Regions from separate parts of the Homo sapiens genome. Here region 2 is linked to region 1. The links come from fine-mapping of genetic effects on gene expression. Tissue or cell type: whole blood. Region 1 holds a variant in brackets; the other region holds the start of a gene. All regions are shown on one strand. Distances are between the middles of the regions.

What was found. PIP is the estimated chance that this variant, and not a neighbour inherited with it, causes the effect.
Region 2: it holds the start of MPZL1, and the variant in region 1 is fine-mapped to the expression of MPZL1 in whole blood (TOPMed, PIP above 0.99). The same link has a PIP of 0.9 or more in blood mononuclear cells.

Annotation. Positions count from the first base shown.
Region 1 is chr1:167,766,235-167,774,417 of GRCh38, reverse strand. It overlaps MPZL1 (myelin protein zero like 1), which reads right to left. Exons shown (of 6, transcript NM_003953.6): 3 at 1,930-2,143; 4 at 1,050-1,182. Among named protein-coding and RNA genes, the nearest start is that of MPZL1, 48 kb to the right of the region's middle. RefSeq lists enhancers at 2,411-2,912, 3,847-4,418. The variant T/C (reference allele first, on the strand shown) is at 3,950.
Region 2 is chr1:167,717,270-167,725,452 of GRCh38, reverse strand. It overlaps MPZL1 (myelin protein zero like 1), which reads right to left and starts at 3,471. Exons shown (of 6, transcript NM_003953.6): 1 at 3,211-3,471. The coding sequence starts at 3,301. RefSeq lists silencers at 2,832-2,971, 3,002-3,071, 3,462-3,831 and enhancers at 2,643-3,143, 5,370-5,869.

The DNA.
Region 1 (8,183 bases):
GCAGAGCCCATAGATAGAGGTTCCCACCATCCACCAGCAAGAGAGTTCAGGACATGCAATCCTTTCACATCAGAGTCCCTTCAGGATGGCTAAAGTTAGATCTGTGCATCTGCAACACTGCTCATGCTATATCAACTTGAATCCAGCCTCTGCTCCCAGTCTTACCACATGAGTTCTACATAGCTTATATGGGTTAGCTTTCCAGCTGGAGTGGGGAAAAGAGAAGGTCCTTTAATTAGATACACACCCTATGCTTAAACGTGTTCCATCTGAGAAGCCATAAACAAAAAGAAAGTCTATTTTTCTTTATTGCTGATATATTTTGTCATCAATTCTTATTATCCCATTTTGGGTGAATCTAGCTAAGAATGATCAAAGCAATAAAGCTACTTAAGCTTGGAGTGGGGTAGGGGAACTACAAAAAGGAAAAGCCCTGCACCATCATCACACTGGGCTGGGGGAGGTAGTTTATTAAAACCACTGCTTTTTCTTCTTCTTTCTTTCTTTCTTTTTTTTTTTTTTTAAAGAGACAGGATCTTGCTATGTTGCCTAGGCTAGATTCAAACGCCTCGGCTCAAGCAATCCTCCTGCCACAGCCTAAGTAGCTGGGACTTACAGGCACATGCCACTAATTCCAGCTCACAACTTCTTAATTAGGGTTTTATATTTCCTAACTGGAAAGAACCACCTTGTGAGTTTATTAGCAAGAAATTGAAATTAAACTCTTAAATTGGGTAAGTGATGTCTTAAGAATACTAATTGCATAGTGGATGGTATTGAAACACAGAGCACAGACTGCTGAGCAGCTCATCTCACCAAACCTAAGAAGGAAACTGGAACAGAGATTAGAATCATATTCCACATTTAATAGCAGGCCCACTGATTTCCACTTGCCCATGTTAGAACACCTCCTAAGGAGACTGCCTGATTCTGACATGAAAGAAAATAGTAGTTAATTCTTTAAAATCCTTTTTTCATTAAATACAGAAGTTTCTATAAACCCTGATTCCCTCCCTCCACCCCTGCCCTAAAAAAACAGTGTTTCTTACCCAGTGTAATCCCGTTTAGAGTTTTTCCTTCTATAGAGGACAGCCAGAATCATGCTGATGAGCAGAGTGAGACCTAGGACCACAGCAGTAACTATGCCCACCACTACCCAAACTGGAAACACAGGCAAATTCTCTAGAGAGAAAGAACAAAATAGTTTTAAGGTACATTGCTACAGAGAGAAAACATGGAATTTTATTAAATTAACGAGCAAGTATCTTCATTTAGCAGTTACCGTACCCTCTTTTATTATCCAAACTATGAGATCCTACTATCTATCCTATTACTATGTAATTCATGACATGTGAATATTAGATGAGAAAGAATGAACTATGGAACTAAGCATTTCTACACCTACAATCCCTCTCAGTGCTCTAAAGAAAAACCGGAGGTGTGAATTTACCTGGATCTACTCTCCAACAAAACAGACTTTGTCTCAAAAATGAGACACCAGAACCTGCATTTCCTGTTTGTTCTCAAAATCAAAAGGAAGAAATAACTGTGCTGTTGTTGAAAGCTTTCTCCTGGAGAATATAAAACAGTATGAATCTCCTTCTTTCCCACTGCCCATCACATCCAAACATAATGAATTTGGTCTTTCTTCTAATTAACACTGAAAAATTCATACTCCTGAAATTAGACCAATAGGCACCAGACGGTAGGAATAAAAATGGAGAAATCAGCCACTCTGGGTCAGAATGAGCAACAAGTTTCCCAGCTCCAAGTGTGTTTGGTAGAGCCACAGGTTCGTGGCAACAGGGAGCACAACTGTATGGCAAAAATCCTCCCTCCAAACCCACCATGAAATGCAACTCATGTTTTCCAACCAAACATGAGATAAAGGAGACTGCATTATTACTGCCAAAATACTCAAGGAAGTACCTTTTTCTACGACATAGAGCCTAATGTGTCCAGGCTGGACAACGATGTCAGGAGGGTTTTTGACATCACAGATATAGGTGCCATTGTGTATAAACTGCATATTTTCTATGTTGATTGATGCATCTTTCTTGTCAAGGTCTCCAGCCCAGCTGATTCTGTCTTTAAATGGTGGATAATTCCCAAGGTACACTTGCCCTTGGGAGTAGTGGAAAAACTGCAATTAGAAAAAAGGAACACATGAACTATTCTCAAAGGCAGAATTCCTAAACTCTGTAATGTGCATGCTATGAAAGGTTCTTTTAAAGACTTCATACGGAAAGAAATGCAACATCTCTCTCCCTCTCCCTCTCCCCCTCTCTCTCCTCCTTTTTTCGGTCTCCCTCTGTTGCTGAGGCTGGACTGTACTGCCGTGATCTTGGCTCGCTGCAACCTCCCTGCCTCGGGCTCCTGTGATTCTCCTGCCTCGGGCTGCCGACTGCCTGGGATTGCAGGCACGTGCGGCCACGCCTGACTGGTTTTTGTATTTTTGGTGGAGAGGGGTTTTGCCGTGTTGACCGGGCTGGCCTCCAGCTCCTGACCTGGAGTGTTCTGCCTGCCTCAGCCTCCCAAGGTGCTGGGTTTGCAGATGGAGTCTTGCTCACTCAATGCTCAATGCTGCCCAGGCTGGAGTGCAGTGGTGTGATCTCGGCTCGCTGCAACCTCCACCTCCCAGCCACCTGCCTTGGTCTCCCAAAGTACTAAGATTACAGCCTCTGCCCAGCTGCCACCCCATCTAGGAAGTGAGGAGCGTCTCTGCCTGGCCGCCCATCCTCTGGGATGTGAGGAGCCCCTCTGCCCGGCCACCCTGTCTGGGAAGTGAGGAGCGCCTCTGCCCGGCCACCACCCCGTCTGGGAAGTGAGGAGCGCCTCTGCCTGGCCGCTGTGCAATCTTCCAAGTGTGAAGTGACAGCCTTTCTGCACGTGTACCCAACAGCTCCGAAGAGACAGCGACCATTGAGAACGGGCCATGATGACGATGGCGGTTTTGTCAAAAAGAAAAGGGGGAAATGTGGGGAAAAGAAAGAGAGATCAGATTGTTACTGTGTCTGTGTAGAAAGAAGTAGACATAGGAGACTCCATTTTGTTCTGTACTAAGAAAAATTCTTCTGCCTTGGGATGCTGTTAATCTATAAACCTTACCCCCAACCCCATGCTCTCTGAAACATGTGCTGTGTCAACTCAGGGTGAAATGGATTAAGGGCGGTGCAAGATGTGCTTTGTTAAACAGATGCTTGAAGGCAGCATACTCGTTAAGAGTCATCACCACTCCCTAATCTCAAGTACCCAGGGACACAAACACTGCGGAAGGCCGCAGGGACCTCTGCCTAGGAAAACCAGAGACCTTTGTTCACGTGTTGACCTTCTCTCCACTATTATCCTATGACCCTGCCACATCCCCCTCTCCGAGAAACACCCAAGAATGATCAATTAAAAAAAAAAAAAAAAAGAAATGCAACATCATATTACAAATCACAAGTTATGGAATCTAAGCCAGACAGAAGTTTAGAGATCACGGCACTCAACCCTGCCAGGTTTCAATGGAAGAATCAGACTCATATATCACCTCTAATCCTCTCAATATTTCATTGATATAATTATTACCACCCATAATTTTATAAAAGACAAAATGGAGACTTAAGAGAAGCCATTTTCCCAAGGTACCAATGATAGTAAATTGGGGACCCAGAGTAAAATTTAGGCCCATCTGAGTCTTCAAAGCCAATGTTCTTCCAGTAACACCATGATTGAGCCCAGTGATTCCCAAGGCTTCAGAAAGCTTAGTGTTGAGTTAGCTTACCACTAAGATACACAGAAGCACAAAGGAGAAGAATCCTAAATATCTCAGATCAGCTAATCTGAGTTTCGCCCTCTTCCTTCTGGTTTCCTATGGAAAAGTCATGGGTGTGTGAAAGGAACAAAGCCCAGATAACACAAGATACTCTTGCCGGCTTTTGAAAGTTCAGCCTTTAGCCCCTTTCTC[T/C]TTCCACTCCTCAGTCTCTCCTCAGTCCTGCTTTCAGCAAAGGAACTGTCTTCTCAAAGTAAACCTTGTCAAACTCAGCACCTGGAAGCAGGGTTAAGGCCCAGTGGGAGGGGATCTATCCTCACACTTGGCTCTAATCCAAGCAGCTATGCTGGAGGCCTGATGTCTTTGTTCTGGTTAATGGACGGGGTGATGGTGGAGCTGGGGATAGAAACCAGCTCTATTAGCAATTCAAACAGAACATTTTCAGAACCCTTTGAGCACGGTGAAAACCCCAGTGCAGACTCATCCATTCCTATGATTTAATGATCATCTAGATTTTCTTAACTCCCAAACCTCTCTCTCCATCAATAGCGTCCCCTAAGCTCTAGACTCCTTGCCTACTCACTTTACCACCTGGCTGCCCCTCTCCCCCAAGCTTGTCACCCTCTCTTACAAACTTCATCTTCCCCTCTTCATGTATCGTGTCTTCACTGATGGCTACTGTTTCTTTCCAAAACCATAAATCTTGAAGTCATCCTTGATTCTCTTTCTTCCTATCCAGTTAATCCCCCAATATTGTCAATGTCTCATTAGTTTCTCTCAGTTCTCTCTTCTCTCTATTCGGTTCCCACTGACAATATCTGTTTTTATGTTTTCATCATCTTGGACTATGGCCTCTTAACTGGTATGTCTAACTCATCATCTTCCACAATGCCTAAATGATCACTGATAAAGAATAATGGTTATTATTATAACATTTATCAAATATTTACCCTGCATTTCATATGACCTAAATGCTTGTTAAGAACCGTGAAGGGTCTGAGATTTTACCCTACTTACAAGCTAACAAAGTTAGTTGGCCACAGGTTCATAGGTGCTGACAGAAGACACGGACTCCTGTGAAATCTTCACTCCCATGAAGAAGACTCAGAAACAAAGAACCTTATGAGCAGAAAGCATGTGTTTGTTTCTCTTGCCCCGCAAGTCCCATAGCCATGACATGGAGGGGCTCACATGGATGTTGTGCAGGCAGAGGCGTTGCATCACAGCCGAGGAACCCCAAGCTCAGGGAACACTATTCTCTTACAAGGGGCAGAAGACATGTCTGACTTCAGCCCTGAAAGGAGACACTACCTTTACTATACTCAAGAATACACAAATTTGTCCTTTGCTCCAGAGGGTAACATCATCTCTGCCTTCCAAAGCTAGTTACTGTATAAAAAAAGTCCAGAACAAAGGCAGCCAGTGCCTTTGCTAGCAAGGTGTGCAAAAACGTGAAAGACCCATAGAAAACTGTCTCCCAACAACTCTCTAGCCCTCACAACCACCCTGCAAGGTGAGATTCGCCTACCTGATATTTCATAAATAGGGAATGTGAGGCTCAGGAAACCTTGGTGACTTTCCCAAAGTCACAGGTTTTAGAGATGGAATTCAAACTCAGCTCTGATTTCAAAGCTTATGCTATTTCCAATGTTTAAGGCCTCTCAGGTGAGATCATGTCTTATCTGTTCAAAGTTCTTCACTCTCTCTTCTTCACTAGAAAATGAACCATAAACTCTCAGCTTTGCAAATGAATCCTTCCATCACCTGCTCTCTGCCTTCCCTTCCCACAACATCTCCACATATTCCCTGCCTTGCATTTCTGAACCAGCGGGGATGAGCTACATGATGCTGTTTCTCAGCACTGGGTCTGAGACAGCTCCCTCAGTCAGGCTCCCTCATTGAATGGGGGCCATTTGAAGGCAGAGGATAAGATGTATTTATCTCTGTACTCCTTAGCACTTTGGACACAGCAGGAACTACATAGTTTGCTGAATCAAACTGAGGAATAACGTCTTGGTCAAACCAGTGAGAGATGGAAATAAAACAGTGAAAAATTCACAGAAAAGACTAGAATCATTATCAATCAATATTTTTAAAGTACAAGCCATGGTGCTAAAGCTATGAGGTATACTAAAGATGTAAGACAGGCAAGTCCTCTTAAAACACCCATATTCAGGAAGAAGAGGAAAACTGTCATATTAAGGGATCTGTATTATAGGAATGGCCCAGATAAGGGTAGTGAGTTTTAAGGGCTAAAAGGTTAAAAAAAAAAAAAGAGGCATTATGGAGGAGACAGAGGGTAAAAATGGGGTACAGCTTAAATGACAAGTGTTCAGAAGTAGGAAAACAAAGCACAAAGCATTTTTACTAAACTGGAAGTGATGCCATAAGAGAACAGAAGTGAGGCTAAAGTGGTAGGCTGGGCCAAATTGTAATGAGCTTTTAATTCTAGACAAATGTTGTCCACAATGGGAATCTAGGTTCCTGATAACCTGCAGTGGCAAGGTGAAAGAGCTGTTCTAAGACTATGCACCTGCTGGCATATGAGGGTTGGATTGAAAGATGAGAAAAACAGAAGCAGAAGAATAACAAGGGGCTACTGCACAAGACCAGGCACACAGTTAACATTGCTCAATAGACAGCAGAGACACAGGAAGGCTGACAAAAAGCTAGACACCAGAAACAAAGTAGGAAGAACCAGCAAAGGTTCTTATTTCTTGGGGGCAGAAGGGAAGTGGTAAGGGACAGGGAAGGAAAGGACAGAAAACACAAAACAAAACAAAACAAAACAAAACAAAACAAAACAAAATGATTACAAAACTCATCTGCAGATGAACACAATTAACCTAAAAAAAAAAAAAAAAAAAAAAAGCAGAAAAGGGAAACAGAAGGGAGAAAAAATGAGTTCAGTTTCAGACATGTGGATCCCAAGGCCATGGGCCAAAAAAGCCATCCACAGTATGGCTTTTGAATATACTGGGTTTGAATATACTTTTCCTGTAAAACCTATAAAAACAAAAAAGCAACCCACTCATCTTATTAAATGTGTCCCGACATTTTGGAATTAAAGGATCCTATGTCAATAACTGAACATGCTGGGATTAACTGCAATCAGACTCGTGTGTAAGTATAAATTGATTAGCTAAAAATATTAATCAGAATTACAGCATGTTCTTAATATTAAGTTTTGAGTTATGTAAACCTTCATGGACCTACACGACAAGACTGTTTCCAGCATAAATGGAACCGCTCTTTAAAAGAAAGTTATTACCTCTGGGTGGCTCTCACACCCACTCTTGCAGAAGACTTCAGTGGGAAATCTTTAAATGTTTAAATAGTTCTTTGGACTCTCTTGAGTAAACTTATGTGTTTAATCTTGCCTCTATGGGAACATTAGTGTATGTTCTATGCTGATGCCATATTTACGTGAAGCAGAGAATGCCTCTTTATGTCTTTCCATGGTATCTGTATGGATTCCTGTGCTCACCCTTATGGCTACTGTAAGGGAAGGCCTCTCTTATAAAGACCTCTAGACTATGCATTCTCCATAGGGGAGATTCTCCCCCAAGGGAGCAAACACTGGCTCTTGGGTGGGAAGCTTTGAGAAAATCTTTCTCTTTTATATGTAAAACAGTTGCAGAGGATATCTACAATATTAAAATTTCATGGAAGGGGGCAGAGATTAAGAAAAATGTGAAAAGGCTCCTTTTAAAAATAAATTTTAAAAAATACTGAGAAGCACTGCCTTAGGTAATCCCTAAAACCTATGAGGCCGTAAATATTATTAGCAGATTTTTCTACCTGAGAGAGAAATAATACATAAGGGAAATCATACCGTATTGAAGTTTAAACAATTCTAACCTGTGTGGTATGGCCACAGGTGAATAACTCTTGAGTCAGTGTCTCCCATCCTCCCCACCCTGTCTTCCTCATAGAGCTGTGAAGATTAAATGGCATAGGCATATGATGGGCCCAACATCTAGGTGGTGATCAACAATGTAACTCACCATTCAGAAGAAGAATTGGGCATTCTTAAAGATAGATGACAGACTGTCCTTGCTAAACACTGACAACCTGAAACATGCAACAGTACTAAAATATGTGCCAATATATGAAGGGCATTCCACATGCTGGGAGAGCAACAGTAACAACAAATGGTGTATTTTAGTAACTCAAGAGCTAGACACTCTCCTGAGCACTTATCTTGAATAATCTTACTTTATCCTCCTAACACCCTTGTGTGGGAGGTTTTATCGTCTCCATTTTACAGACCAGAACCAAGATAGTCAGTTCATGTTTAATAACCAGCACTCCACTAGTTACTAAATAACCTTTTTTCAATGCTCTGGTGCTGTATTTCTGTTACATCCTTTATCTTACTCCAAAGTCATCTATATATCAGCCTTCCTCCTAATCATCTCTAGGTGAG
Region 2 (8,183 bases), 49 kb after region 1:
ATTAGCCAGGCATGGTGGTGCATGCCTGTAGTCCCAGCTACTTGGGATGCTGAGGCACAAGAAGAATCACTTGAATCTGGGAGATGGAGGTTGCAGTAAGCCGAGATTGTGCCACTGCATTCCAGCCTGGGCGAGACAGAGCAAGACTCCAGAGGGGGAAAAAGAGGAAGAGCAGCTGGGAGGCTATCACAGTAATATAGGCAAGAAATGGTGGTGACTTTGACTAAAAGGCTAGGAGTGGAGGTAGAAAAAACATCAATTCCAGATGCATTTTAAAGATGGGAGAACTGATTGGATGTGAAGGACAGGGAAGAATCAGGGATGGACCCTAGGTTTCTGGCCTGCACAATTAGATGTATGGAGGTTCCATTTACTGACATGGATGGTACAAATTACTGAGATTTAGTCCTCATATACTATGTGCTCATTTCAATTACCAAATTCAGTGAATTCTTATCACATTTTATCTCTCTTCATCTGACAATGCTGAAATACCAAACTCACCTGGTTTTTCTCTTACTCACAGAGACTCTTTGTCAGGTTTCATATACCCCAAAACTCCGTCTTTGGCTCTCTGCTATGTTCTTCAGTGCATTTTCCCTGGATGCCCTCATCCAAACAATCCAAGCTTTAACTATTAGCCACATAACTCTCTAAATCTCCATTTCCAACCAGAACTTTCTCCTCACCTCCAGAACTGTCTATCCAATTGTTTTCTGCCCATCTCCATTTGGATGTCTTACCCGCATCTCAAACTCAACATATTCAAAAGTATCTCCATCATCTTCTTCCCCCAAGACTCCTATTTCCCCATCTGTGAAAAGGCCAAAAATATGCCCAGCTTCCCAAGCCCAAAACCTATGATCATTTTATCCACCTCCTCTTTCAAGCCTGCATCAATGTTTCCAAGCTCTATCAAACGTACTTTCTAAGTGGCGCATCAACATGTGTCCTCTCTTCATAGCCCAATGCTTGAATTCAGATCTTCATCATCCTCCCCGGGATTATTACAATAGTCCTCTGCCTTCTCTGGCTTCAGCCTCACCCCACTCTAACCCATCCTTCACATCTCAATAGACAGAGAAATCCTCATTGGATTAAGTGTGGCAGACAAGGCCCTTTGTAAGCTGGTGCCCTTGGCAGGCTCTCCTGCCTCAACTCCCACCATTCCCCTTATATACACTCCAACCTCCCACTATACTGAACTACCAACAGGTTCATTCATAACTCTGTATGTACTTCTGCCCCTCCCCCATGCCTACCCAGTTTAAACTCCCTTCCTCCAGTAGCCTGAACTACAGTCTGAGATAATGACCCTCCTTCAAGCTCCCACAGTACATCTTTACCAATGTGCTTCTGACCCTACACAGTGGCACACACCTGTAGCCCCAGCTGCTTGCGAGGAAAAGGCAGAGGAATCACTGGAGCCCAGGAGTTTCAGTTCCAGAGCAGCCTGGGCAACACAGTGAGACCTAACCTCCCACCTTTTAAGTGTTAAGCACTTAAAAGGTGCTCAGTGAATGTTTGCTGAGTAACTGTCTTGATAAAACTTTAGAAGCTATCCTGTAAAAGATAAACTCTTATGTGCAGTATCCATGACCAGAAAAGAGGTGATTTGGCAAGAATTTTAGATTCAATAATTTTCTAAGTTGAACCAATAACATCAGCTGCTGATTTTTACATATCAACATTCATCTTCATTACTGAAGAGTTACGTCCAAGTTGTATGGGGCTATTACTCTAGTGATCTTTTCACTACTATGTAGTTTTGCACTCCTTCTACGTTTAATACCCTGATTTTAATTAAGATCACCCTAACTGCTTTGTCCTCCATAGCAATGTCTGACCTCTCATGCATAACAATTCTGTCTGAAGCATATTTCTGATAAACCTTAATTTTAGGCTATTTTCTACTTGTTTGATTAAACACAAATACCACCACCAACAAACACACTTTTAACCTTTTTTTCTAAGACAAAATACAGAATGGATTGTGTCTTACACAAAGTGTGTCATCATCTGTCAACCCCTGGAGGGTAGGGAGACTTTTACATTTATGCTTTACAGCCCCTGGAATCACTGTTTAAGTGGAACAGTTGGTGATCCAACAGAACTTCACCTAGTTTCCCTGATCCAAGGATTATATTAAGAACTTTTCCATGAAGAAAGAAATTACTGAGTAAACTCTGGTATTCAGATACTGTGATGCTAAATCATAACTGACATTTTGAAAACAAAGGGAATGAAAAAAATCTACGTGGTTTCTTAGCAGCTGGCCCTCTTTATAACTATTATTTAACTAAATTCGGAGACAGCAACAAGTACTTTGCTTTGAACAACAACACAGAAAAGTCCTGTGGCAGATACCACTTCAGATGTCCATAAAACAAGTCATCCAATTCCCATAAATTGAGCCCGAGGTTTACCTTAAGCTTGAGTCACAATATTTGGTAAGAAAAAGGAGCTTTTTTTTTCCTTTAGGAAAATTATGCTTTTTAATGCTCTATGTCTTGTCAAATTATGGTGGCTACGTCTGGAATTATGATGGATTTGACCAAATTCTTTTAAGCCAGGCCATCTCACTGGTATTCCAAGCTCTTTGCATTCTAACCTAGAAGTAACAATATTTTTTTATTGGCGTTTTGCAGACCACGGAAATGAGACTCTTTTATTACGGAGACTTAAAACTGAATGAGAGCATGGGAAAGGGAACTTACAACAAAACCCTGGCTTAACAGGAAACAAATCAACAAAGGCCCTACAAATGAAAAACCTGCAACTTTCCGCCACCTCCCAAAGGTGAAGAACGCCAGAACCCTAGTTCCTGAGTCAGAATCCGGGAGGGCCTAGACGATCCAGAGTCACCACGAGGAGAGGGCAGGGTGCGCCGCGAGGGCTCACCGCAGCCGCCCGCCGGGTCCGCTCCCCTGGACCGCCCCCCGGGAAGGAGCAAGGTAAAGCACTCTCCCCTCCTCCTCCGCACTCCAGGATCCAGGAAAGAGAAGAAAGAGGCTCTGCGCCTTCCCGGCCAGTCGCGGAGGCCCGCGTTCCCCATGGGCTGGGTCCCCTCGGCCCCAGAGAGCGCAGGCCGCGCCCCCTCCCCACCTCGGCTCTCAGTGCGCGCGCCTGGCCTGCGACCGCCGCGATGGGCGTGTGTCGGGCCCGGGGGCCCCACTCCCCGGCCCCAGCCCTGGTCCTGGCATCACTTACAGAGCCCAAGCGCCGCCGCCAGCACCGACCACAGCCAGCGCCGGCTGTCTGGGGCTGCAATCACCGCCCCGGCTCCGGCGGACGCTGCCATCGTCCAGCCACTGCAGTCGCCGCCGCCGCCGCCGCGTCCCTGAGCCCGGGTCCCCGCTGAGGTTGGCTCGGCTTGGGGAAGAGGCTTCTGATCTCTCCGCCACCCGCGCCGGGTGGCACCTCCACGCCGCGCTCCCCACTCCGGTCCCAGCCGCGGCTCTCCAGCTCTGCACCGAAGCCTCAGCCCCACTCCGGCCCTCGCTGTCCGCTCATTGGCCTGCCCGCACCCTTTTAAGGACGCGATTGGAGAGTCAGGCTGTCCATCATCCGTCCGCCGGGAAGGCCCCGCCTCCTCGGTCCCACCCAGGCGCCTCGGCCCCGCGCGGAGGCCGGGTCTGCAGCGGTCCCAGGCCGAGCCGAGCCTTCCGCCTGCCTGCGTGGCTGTCCGCCTGCGGGCCCCACCAGCCAGCGTCTCCTCTGCCTTTCTCAGGGTCCAGTCCCGTGGTCCTCTTCATTGTCTCTCCTCGCCACAGGTCTTTGCTGGGTACTAACCTCGCCTCCGTTTCAGCTCTTCTTGTTCTCTGCCGGCCTCACCTAACGAAAAAGAAGCAATTCATTTACCTTAAAAAGAAAGAAAAGACAGAAAGAAAAATAATGAGGCGTTCAATTGATGGGGGAGAGACTTCTGATTCAGTCGTCCAGGTGGAACACGTTCCCCGTGCCGTGTCCCCAAGGCCTGTCCTTTGCGTGGACTAGATAATGTATGTGTTGCAATTTGCGAAATCTACTAGTTTAAAAAGAAGTCTCCATCTTGCCCTAACCTCCTCTTAGGAACCTCCCTCCTGGCTTCAGAAGGATGGGAATCTGGAACTCTTTCCTACTACCTGAAAAACAAATGAAAATGCTTTTTGATTGTTTTGCTTTCGCATATCTGTGTTCCTGTCTGTGTCCGTGAAAAATAGAAAGCAGAAGTTCCCAACACTGATTCTGAAGTGCCCTGCAGAAGTTCCCGACACTGATTGCTGGCCCTGCTCAACTTGGTTGCCTTGGCCCAGAACAGTCTGCCACCTACGGGTTGTCCAATCAATAGGGGAAATATTTGGAAGGATCCTTATGAAAATGGCTTACAAAAGGGAAAAATGGGGGACAGGGGCACAAGAAAGATGAGTGTGAAGGAGGAAAAGGGAAGATTCAGGTGGGAGGCTGATACGATGAGGAAGGGAAGCAAGCTTTAGACAATTAGGACAAGAGCGGGGGAAGAGTATGGTGAGAACCCAAAATGTAACCTCTCACTTCAGGGTTTTTGTCTAAGGTCAGTCTTAACAATGCCATTCCTGATATCTGTGCTGTTTCAGCTAACATTGCAGTACAGCGAAATCATAAGAACATTAGTGAGAAAAAAACTTAAAAAAAAAAAATACCAGAACCACTTTGCCCTATTTCTGTCAGCAGATCCTTTTGAAGTTGTATCTCAAATGCCATAGGTTGGAAAAGATACCAATGCATTAATTGAACCATGGATGTAGAACACCTGGGCTTTACTCTCAAGAAGCACATCGTCTACTAGTGTACACAAACAAGTACTCAATTACATTTGTAAAAATGAGGGCCGGGTGCGGTGGCTCACACTTGTAATCCCAGCACTTCGGGAGGCCGAGGCGGGCAGATCACGAGGTCAGGAGTTTGAGACCAGCCTGGCCAGCGTAGTGAAACCCCATCTCTACTAAAAGATACAAAAAAATTAGCCGGGCATGGGTGGCGCGTGACTGTACCCAGCTACTCGGGTGGCTGAGGCAGGAGAATCGCTTGAACTGAGAGAAGAGAGACAGAACCTCTCATATAGTTTTATACTCAGAAAAGGAAAGAGAAGCGAAATTAAAGGCAGGTAACCCGGCGCCTAAGAACCAGACCCGAAACCAGGCCTGGGCCTGCCTGACCTAAGCCCGGTAGTTAAAGATCGACCCCTGACCTAACCGGTTATGTTATCTATGGATTCCAGACATTATATGGAAAGGCATTGTAAAAATCCCTGTCCTGTTCTGTTTCGTTCTGATTACCGGTGCATGCAGCCCCCATTCACAGTACCCTCTGCTTGCTCAATTGATCATGACCCTCTCACGCGGACCCCCTTAGAGTTGTGAGCCCTTAAAAGGGACAGGAATTGCTCACTCGGGGAGCTAGGCTCTTGAGACAGGAGGCTTGCCGATACTTCCGGCCGAATAAACCCCTTCCTTCTTTAACTCCGTGTCTGAGGAGTTTTGTCTGCGGCTCATCCTGCTACAGAACCTGGGAGGCAGAGGTTGCAGTGAGACGAGATCACGCGCCATTGCACTCCAGCCTGGGCGACAGGGCGAGACTCCGTCTCAAAAAAAGGAAGAGTGAATAAAGAAGAAACCCAAGGCCAGCAGGGACAGTGACTCTCAGCAGTGTTTAAAGCTTCTCTGCTGATTGTGATGTACCTCAGCCACATATACCTCGCTCTCCTAAAATCCACTGGCCCAAGAAGCATCTAGAAAGATTCACCAAGGATAAAACATTTAAGGTGAACTTTAAAAGATGAATAATTCACCAGAGAGAAAACAGGAAAAGCAAACTCAGAGAACGGAGAAAACAGGAAAAGCACATTCAGAGAAAAGAAATCACCTACCAAGTGTGAGAAACATTAGGTGAATCCTTTGTGGTTTGCAACTTGAGGGGAGTGAGGGAAAGAGGGGAAGAGAGAATGCCAGGAAAGGAGGCTGCGGTCATATTTTGAAGAGCCTTGAGTTGTGTTTTTTCTGGAGGCAGTGGAGAGTGGTGAAAGGGGTGTAAGAAGTTCGGATCTGTGTTTTAAAAAGGTAACCACTGCAGCAGGGCAAGAATGAAGAGAGCAGGAAATAAGGTATTGATAGTGGGGATGAGAAGACAGGATTTGAGAGACATTTCACGAAAAGAATTACAGGACTGGGTATAAATTGGATGAGAAGTATAATCAAGAGAAAAAGAGTCCCAATTTCTAGCCTGTCTGTCTTTGTCTTCAAGATCTGTTGCCAGAGGAAAATTGGAATGTGGGTGGTGTCCCAGGAACCCTGAGAATTTGACTCCTCGCAGATAACAAATCAGATAGATTCAAAGAGGAATCCCAGGCCACCTTGAGAAAGATTCGCCTGAAGCCAAATCAGTTTCACAAAGAATGTCTTAATCCAGAAGCATTGCTGCTAGAAATTTTTGAAAATTGGAAAATTAGAGTTCTAGTGTCTCCTTCCCCTTGGCACAGAGACACCAAATTGGGGGAACGAGGGTAAAAGGGTCCTTAGGGAGGTGTTAATTCTTACAGGAGAAGGCTGTGCTGTCAGACTTCTAAATTCACTGTAGCTGGGATAAAATTTTCCTCAAGATACACTGTTTTCCTGGGCCCTGCAACCATCTGTGTACTACATCTGCTTCCCAAGGACCTAATTCTAGGGAAGCATGTGCCTGGACAGATAGCGCAGGCATTCCTCCTACCAAATAGGGATATTTCCCACTGTCAATGAAGCAATCAATATTCTGAGTTTTGTTATTGTCAGTCTTTCTGCATCATTGTTATGACAGTCAAATGAGATACTCAAGTATTTGGCCTGCCGAGTAAAAGACAAGTTCCTTTTTAATGATTAGATAGAAGAAGTTGGGGGGAAAAATCTAAAATGATAATAGCTATAGTAAATTCAAAAGGGAAAAGAGAGAGAGCAGGGAGACTTCTTGAGACTGAGGCTTTCAGATATCTGAAGTGGTTATATTATTTTCTCTAACCAGTTATATTCTACAGCTTCCTCATTTTAAGGAGAAAAGCAGTATAAACTTCTTAGGTGTCCAGGGCATATTTTTTTCCAGTTAGATTTTGATGAATACACTATCTGGCAATCTAGAACTTATTAACATTGTACAAGGTATTCTTATCCTCCCTCCTTTCCTGGAGCCCTAAGAAGAACTGAAGACTCAAGTTAGGGCAGTTTTAAATAAAACAAGGGTAAAGACAGCGCTAGATTTTCTATAATTTTCTGTTGTCAAACCATAGGAAGAAAGTGGACAGTTCGGAGTCGGTCACATAGTACTTGTTGTTAAATGTTTGTTGAAGAATGAGTAGGCTGGGCGCCGTGGCTCACGCCTGTAATCCCAGCACTTTGGGAGGCCAAGGCCGGCGGATCACAAGGTCGGGAGTTCGAGAACAGCCTGGCTAACATGGCGAAACCCCCATCTCTACTAAAAATACATTTGGTGCCCACCGTTTGTAATCCAGCTACTTGGGAGGCTGAGGCGGGAAAATTGCTTGAACCCGGGAGGCGGAGGTTGCAGTGAGCTGAGATTGCGCCACTGCACTCCAGCCTGGGTGACAGAGCAAGACTTCCGTCTCGGAAAAAAATAAAAAAGAATGAGCAATGAATGAATGAATGAATAAACCGATGAATGTATGACATATGAAATAAAATTAATGAATAGGTCTATTTAAGATAGTCACTCTGTCTACTTGTTTCCTATCTGGTTGGTTATTTGCTAGAATGACAATTCACAATTACTGTTTGTCAATGTGTTTGTCAACGTGTTAGGGAAGCAGCAGCCTAGGAAAGCTAGAATAATGCCATTTTAAGTTCAGCTCCATTTTAGGACTAACAAGGCACATTCCTTGCCTGCCACGACCCATAGTCATGGGATGTTTATAATTAAGGAAACAGCCTGAAGATAACTAGGACTGACTCCTACAACAGCAAGAAGTCCAAATGTCCTAATATCTACAACAATATATGCCTTTAAGATAATCACAGTTATGCTTTTACGTATTCACACACTAAAATGTCAATAATTGTCTTCTTTAAATCAACAGAGTAACAAAATTTGTCATGTTGTCTGCTCACCCGTATGTAGGCACAGCTTAGCCTAGCTTTTACATAGGTAAGATCACTATATAAGAAAAACTTAAGAACGGG